Linked DNA regions of Homo sapiens. The protein of the gene in region 2 interacts with the protein of the main gene of each other region in a biochemical or structural test. Each region holds a gene or a part of one and is shown on either strand. Other genes may lie near its edges.

Region 1 (3,747 bases), on a different chromosome or scaffold from region 2:
CCCTATAGAGAACACCTCAATCAAGCCAGCATTGTTCACCTAACTGGTAGCTAGCTGTATGTTACATTTGTATATGTTAACATAAAGCTGAAGAACAGAAAGAAAATGGATAGCTCTTTGTTCAATGCCTTAGAAACTTTGCCCCTATGGAGTGTTAATAGAATGCTGAGATATCTTTTTTGGTAAAGGGACTGGGAAAAATGCCAAAAAAAAATGCTAATGTGCGTTTCTCCACACTTTATACAGGTGAAATCTGATTAAAACAAGCACTGCTTGCTTCACACAGAAGTGGAATCACAAAAGGAAAACAGGTAACCTGAAGCCTGTGTGTAGGAGAAAGGAACACAGCTTCCTTATTTAGTTATTTCATTTGAGAATTGTATGTGGTATGTATATGAAGAGTTTGGGAAGGGGGATAAATTGTAGGTGTGTAAGTGCATCTCTGATGCCTTTCCTTTTGAAAAGCTTGATTGACTGCTTGATTGAGTTTGTAGAGCCACGTCTGGCTCCAGTCAACTTCTCCAAGGGACATTTCTACAGGTAGCTGTCAATAGAAGAGCCCCAAGTCCCTAAAAACTACTTGCCACAAGACAATGCTTCTAATTTGGGGATTTAAGGATAGTTCTAAGTAAACAAATTGCTTAATAAATATTTGTCAAATTGAAATGAAGGGATGTAACCTCAGAATTATGAAAAATGTGGTCTATTTTACAACCAATTTGGGAAGGACGCCATCAAATGATAAGCTGACCAGTAAAGGTAAAAGTAGGTAAAAGGAGCTAGCCACGGAGCAGGAAAAGCTGATAAGTGGCAGAAAATCTCGAAATTTACATTTCGAAAATGTTTGGGTGAATTTGTATAATACATCTTAATCCTTTTACACAATACTTTTATCTCATCTTTATCATAAATATTTACCTATGCATTGCCTTAGCGTCTTTCCTGTATTGAATGAAATGACAATTCCAGAGACGCAAAGCCCAGCCTCCAAGTTTTACAAACCTCAGAGTTTGAGCTACTTTGACGAATCCTCTAAATTCTTGGGTGTCAAAGGCATGTTACTAAATAGGTTGCTAAAGGCACCAAGGAAACCAAAAAAGGAAAGAGCTCTCCCTAAAGGTAAGTAGCACTTAATTGGGAACTTTGAGACGTCTGTCACTCTTTGTGACAATTGAGAAAAAGTACTTTGTACATTTTGTGCTTTGCAGGTGAGATGTGACTGACACCTTACTGTCTCTGTGTTTAGAGAGGGCTTTCGTGGGTGGAAGAAGAGGCTGGTTTGAAGAGAGTGCTTTTCCATTCTGAATATCATTAAAGGATTGTGGGGGGCCAAAAATGTAACCTAAAATGCCATCAATTGTCCATTTAAAATATCCTATTTGGCAAAGTGGCTTTGCACTCATCTGAAGAATAGATCATGGGTGGAGTTTGGAAAAGAAATGTTGTGTTTCGTCTCTGCTAAAAACAAAACAAGGTACCATCTCATGGCCTCTTGGTTCAAATCCGTTTTCTTGCTCCGCAGGGAGAGACTGCCCCTGGAGTATTCTGCTTTTAATAAGCTTCCCAATCAGCTCTCGAGTGCAAAGCGCTCTCCCTCCCTCGCCCAGCCTTCGTCCTCCTGGCCCGCTCCTCTCATCCCTCCCATTCTCCATTTCCCTTCCGTTCCCTCCCTGTCAGGGCGTAATTGAGTCAAAGGCAGGATCAGGTTCCCCGCCTTCCAGTCCAAAAATCCCGCCAAGAGAGCCCCAGAGCAGAGGAAAATCCAAAGTGGAGAGAGGGGAAGAAAGAGACCAGTGAGTCATCCGTCCAGAAGGCGGGGAGAGCAGCAGCGGCCCAAGCAGGAGCTGCAGCGAGCCGGGTACCTGGACTCAGCGGTAGCAACCTCGCCCCTTGCAACAAAGGCAGACTGAGCGCCAGAGAGGACGTTTCCAACTCAAAGTAAGTGAGAGGAACGTACGATTTCTCGGAGGGCTCTTCGATCGAGTTTGCCTTCACCCTGTGCCACTTTTCTGGGTGCCAGCAGATGATGGTGGTAGGGGTGAGAGAGGCTGCCTGGTGTCTTTGCTGATAGGACTGCTTTCAAAACTGACTTGCTCCAGAGGCCAAGGGAGGCATATTTTTGGGGTTTCAGGTTAGGTTAGTTCGGGTGTGCTTAGGTAAGTGAAAGGAAAGAAGTTTTTGTGATGTTAAGCATGTATTTGGACCGTGTTCCAGCTACCAGCTGGAGAGCAAGACAGGGTGGGCTGGAGAGTGCATCTTTGCTTTTTGTAAAACCTGGAGCTTTAGTAGGTGTGTCTCTGGCTGGGTAGGTGCAAAGAAAGTAAGGCAGCCTGAACAAGCAGCTCTCATTTTCCCAGCCTCTCTCTGATTCTCTGATTGCCCCAGAGCCTGTCAGCCCATGACTCTTAGCTGGCATTTCTAGGTAAGCTGTGGGGGCTTGTTCCTCCCAGTGCTAGCTGACATGAAACGTCTCTCACGGAACTACTGGCACCCGTCTTCCCACCTGACAGCCCAGGAATGGTTCCAGAAATGGTTAGGTCCAAAGTTTAGAAGACACACCTGGAGTCCCATCTCTCATTTGAATGCAAATTTAAAGAACTGCCCAGTACATAGACCCTTAAACTTTTAATTTGACCCACATAAATTTAGGATATATTTGTTACTAATTTACTAGATATTTAGAGTTTCTGAGTTGTTGTTTCTAATAAGTTAAGAAAACATTTTTTGAGAGGAATGTATTCAACTCCTTTCTTAATAGATGGAAAGTGAAACCTCCTCTCTCCTCTCCATACACACACACCCCTTTCTCCATGACATAATGTGACACAACACACACACACACACACACAGGAACACACACATGCAGTTTATATACACTCTAGTGTTAACTCACCCTTGTGTCTGTTAAGAGCTGCTTTGTAAGTTTGGGGACACATTCAGAAAATAGGAGGGGTAGGGGTGCTAAGAGGAGAAAATATTAAAGCTGCGGTCCTTGAGCATCTCTCATTTTAAGAGTTATCAGGCATTTTGCTTTAGCAGCTTGAGAAAGGGGTGATGTGTGTGTGTGCGTGTGCATGTGCGTGTGTGTGTGCTAGAGAGAGGGGTCTGGGAGGAGATTTAGAAATCACCAAAAAGAGCTCTGGACTAATAACATAATGAAACATTTTATGATCCTAGGCAAATGTGGAATTGATGAAACAGCAGGGCCCATTTTAGCCCCTTAATTATCCGGGAATGCATTGATATGTAGAAATATTGAAAGTTAATGACAATGAAACAAAAGAGAAGTCTCCCAACACAGAAAATAAAGCTGTATTTTCCATCTTCATTATGTTTCCTTTTAAGTAAATTATGCACTTTAAAGGCCAAGTCGTTTAAAAAATATAGTCCAGTTAAATTCAGAGGAAATTAGAATGAATATTTTTTTCTTCCTTTGGGACATGAGTTATTTCAGACTGGCAATATTTGTACTTTTTCATTTAAATTAGAAGATGAGATTTTAAAAAATTATATTATTTAAAAAAAACTCTAATGCCATCCTTTTGTGCTTTAAGAAACTTGGGCCTTAAGTTCTCTAATTGTACTTTAAATAAATAGAAGGTGATCTTTTTTCTGCCACTGCTCACTGGTTCCCTTTAGGACATCTTTTTCTGCATTTAGTGAAAAGCCACTATAAGGAACTCCCACCTGAAGCCACATATAACAGCATTAGGTGCTGTGTTCCAGCTGTTTGCTTCTGGATGCAAA
Region 2 (3,747 bases):
TATAGAGAAATAGGGAAAGGCTGGAGTTTTAGTCTTTTTTCATATTTCAAATAAAAATTCCTCTTCCAGTAGGTATGTCAGAAAAATCTGATGAAAATCAAACATATATTGTACCAGGAAAGTATTAACTACCATAGCATTTTCCTCCCTCTTTTCTTTCTTTTCCACCCTTCCTCCACCAAGATAGGAGCATATTTTCTTCTCGGGTGAGATAATTCTTTGCCCTGAAACTTGTAAAGTCAGTGTATCCAGTGTGACTTCCAGAGAGAGGGCAGATGCCTGTCAAATTAAGTGAGTTGCCAAACATAGAGCAGGAAGAAAGCCATTCCGAGAATCAATATTCCTTTGTTACTGGGTCTTCCACTTGCCAAGGCATTGCCACAAAGCTGGAAAGGCCCAGCTCCTAGGAGAACAGAGGTTCCACCTGGCCACTATCTCCTGTGGGGTGGTAGGCAAGTTACTGCGGCCCCCAGGAGCTCAGTGAGGGAGGTTCAATGTGACACTGTGCTCTGATCCTGTGAGAAAACTCCTGTGCTACCCGACAGGCCGTGAGCTCCAGAGAGGATCTTGCCTTATTCTTAGCTTCAACAGTCAGCCCAAGGCCTGACAACCAGCCTTTAAGAAGGAATCAAGGGGATTTGTGTGACCCAAAGATGGTAGTTTTGTCTGAGGATCTAGTGAACCACTTGTTATAAAAACAGCTATTATGAGTTCTGTGTTGGCAGCTCAGGAGAGACGAAAGGAAAGGGAGAGGAGAGGTACAGCCATTACAGGTGAGTAAAAAAGGCCTAAGGTTCTGAACCCTCATTCCCAAGATTGTGGGCAAACAATTAAATGCTCTGCAACTCAGTTTCTGCATCTGTAAATCTGGAATTAAAATGTTTGCCTTACAGAGACTAGGGGAGGTTACACATGTTCAGACACCATTCTGAGAAAACAGAGCGACTGACAGGGGTCTGAAAGGTATTTGTTGTAGCTGCAGAACAACTCTGCCAGACCAAGACCATCCATCCCTCTCTGCCCCCCTATTCCCAAATTCTCCTGTGTGGACGGCAGGACTCCTAAGCTCCCAGGAATGCATTCAAATAATAGATGGGTCAGAAAATATTCTGTCTCAGGGCCTTAATACAAGCTGTTCTCAGATTTGCCAGTGTCGCGCTGCCACCCTCTCCCCACTTCCTCCTCCCTTCCCACTCCCCCCTCCCTTCCCCTCTCCTCCAGTTTTATTCTGGAACCTGTTTTTCCGAAGTCGGACCCGTTTAATCTCTTAAATGTATAATTAGGGAGAGTGCTTGATTGCAAAGGCCTCTTCCAGTTCTCACATTTGCTCCCTTTCACACTGCAGAGAAATAGGGCAGGGAATCTAGAGGAGGGGAAGAACAAGAGACTGGAGAGGGAACAGAGGGAGGGTGGGGCGGGCTCACTCCTTTTCTCAATGAATGCCGAGGCCTCTGCAGATTTGCATAGGAGCCGATCGAGCCACGCCATTGGTTGGAGGGTGCGGGTGGGGCGGGGCGAGGCCGGACTGCGTGGGTCGGGCAGCAGCGCGGAGTTGGCTTGTGAGCCCCGCCCCCTCCGGGCCCCGCCCCCTCCCTGCGCGCGCTCGCGCGGCTCAGCCAGCTGCAAGTGGCGGGCGCCCAGGCAGATGCGATCCAGCGGCTCTGGGGGCGGCAGCGGTGGTAGCAGCTGGTACCTCCCGCCGCCTCTGTTCGGAGGGTCGCGGGGCACCGAGGTGCTTTCCGGCCGCCCTCTGGTCGGCCACCCAAAGCCGCGGGCGCTGATGATGGGTGAGGAGGGGGCGGCAAGATTTCGGGCGCCCCTGCCCTGAACGCCCTCAGCTGCTGCCGCCGGGGCCGCTCCAGTGCCTGCGAACTCTGAGGAGCCGAGGCGCCGGTGAGAGCAAGGACGCTGCAAACTTGCGCAGCGCGGGGGCTGGGATTCACGCCCAGAAGTTCAGCAGGCAGACAGTCCGAAGCCTTCCCGCAGCGGAGAGATAGCTTGAGGGTGCGCAAGACGGCAGCCTCCGCCCTCGGTTCCCGCCCAGACCGGGCAGAAGAGCTTGGAGGAGCCAAAAGGAACGCAAAAGGCGGCCAGGACAGCGTGCAGCAGCTGGGAGCCGCCGTTCTCAGCCTTAAAAGTTGCAGAGATTGGAGGCTGCCCCGAGAGGGGACAGACCCCAGCTCCGACTGCGGGGGGCAGGAGAGGACGGTACCCAACTGCCACCTCCCTTCAACCATAGTAGTTCCTCTGTACCGAGCGCAGCGAGCTACAGACGGGGGCGCGGCACTCGGCGCGGAGAGCGGGAGGCTCAAGGTCCCAGCCAGTGAGCCCAGTGTGCTTGAGTGTCTCTGGACTCGCCCCTGAGCTTCCAGGTCTGTTTCATTTAGACTCCTGCTCGCCTCCGTGCAGTTGGGGGAAAGCAAGAGACTTGCGCGCACGCACAGTCCTCTGGAGATCAGGTGGAAGGAGCCGCTGGGTACCAAGGACTGTTCAGAGCCTCTTCCCATCTCGGGGAGAGCGAAGGGTGAGGCTGGGCCCGGAGAGCAGTGTAAACGGCCTCCTCCGGCGGGATGGGAGCCATCGGGCTCCTGTGGCTCCTGCCGCTGCTGCTTTCCACGGCAGCTGTGGGCTCCGGGATGGGGACCGGCCAGCGCGCGGGCTCCCCAGCTGCGGGGCCGCCGCTGCAGCCCCGGGAGCCACTCAGCTACTCGCGCCTGCAGAGGAAGAGTCTGGCAGTTGACTTCGTGGTGCCCTCGCTCTTCCGTGTCTACGCCCGGGACCTACTGCTGCCACCATCCTCCTCGGAGCTGAAGGCTGGCAGGCCCGAGGCCCGCGGCTCGCTAGCTCTGGACTGCGCCCCGCTGCTCAGGTTGCTGGGGCCGGCGCCGGGGGTCTCCTGGACCGCCGGTTCACCAGCCCCGGCAGAGGCCCGGACGCTGTCCAGGGTGCTGAAGGGCGGCTCCGTGCGCAAGCTCCGGCGTGCCAAGCAGTTGGTGCTGGAGCTGGGCGAGGAGGCGATCTTGGAGGGTTGCGTCGGGCCCCCCGGGGAGGCGGCTGTGGGGCTGCTCCAGTTCAATCTCAGCGAGCTGTTCAGTTGGTGGATTCGCCAAGGCGAAGGGCGACTGAGGATCCGCCTGATGCCCGAGAAGAAGGCGTCGGAAGTGGGCAGAGAGGGAAGGCTGTCCGCGGCAATTCGCGCCTCCCAGCCCCGCCTTCTCTTCCAGATCTTCGGGACTGGTGAGCAGCTCCCGCCTGAGTGTGCCGGGATTTAGTGTTTTTAGTCACATTGATATGCAACCATTAAATAATCTTCACTTCCACCCCACTTTCTAAAACCTCAGCTCTGCTTCATCGCCCTCCTTCCTCCCGCAAACCTCCTTCCCGAATCAGACCGTAGTTTCTTGTTTTCTCCCTGAACGCAGTTCAGGGGTCTTCCTTCCTCTTTAGCAACCAAGTTGGGGGAAAAGTTTCATACTCTTGGCAGAGCGCCTTCTTCTCTGGACTTATACGCTGTCCGAGACAAAATTGGGCGCCCCTCTTCCTGGGCCCCGGGACAGTTGAAATGCCCCGATTACTTCCAGGTTCCAAGCTTAGTAGTAGATGTCAAAACTATTGCCCTTCTCTCCCTCTTGTTCCTGGCCAGCACAGATTTGGGAAATATGGTACCTTCTCAGGGAATATAGAATTTCTCTTCATATTATTGAATCTCACCCAACTGTCCCCATTCCAAACGTTGGCTTGGGCAGG

The links. Proteins that work in one complex are often made in the same cells at the same time.
Region 1: the proteins of ALK (region 2) and PTN form a complex in vitro, tested with the Homo sapiens proteins (one study listed by BioGRID).

The regions. Positions count from the first base shown.
Region 1 is NC_000007.14:137,341,630-137,345,376, reverse strand, and holds the start of PTN (pleiotrophin isoform 1 precursor), read left to right. Parts: upstream 1-1,643; 5' UTR 1,644-1,938; intron 1,939-3,747.
Region 2 is NC_000002.12:29,919,483-29,923,229, reverse strand, and holds the start of ALK (ALK tyrosine kinase receptor isoform 1 precursor), read left to right. Parts: upstream 1-1,643; 5' UTR 1,644-2,570; coding exon 2,571-3,237; intron 3,238-3,747. UniProt on the Homo sapiens protein: Neuronal receptor tyrosine kinase that is essentially and transiently expressed in specific regions of the central and peripheral nervous systems and plays an important role in the genesis and differentiation of the nervous system.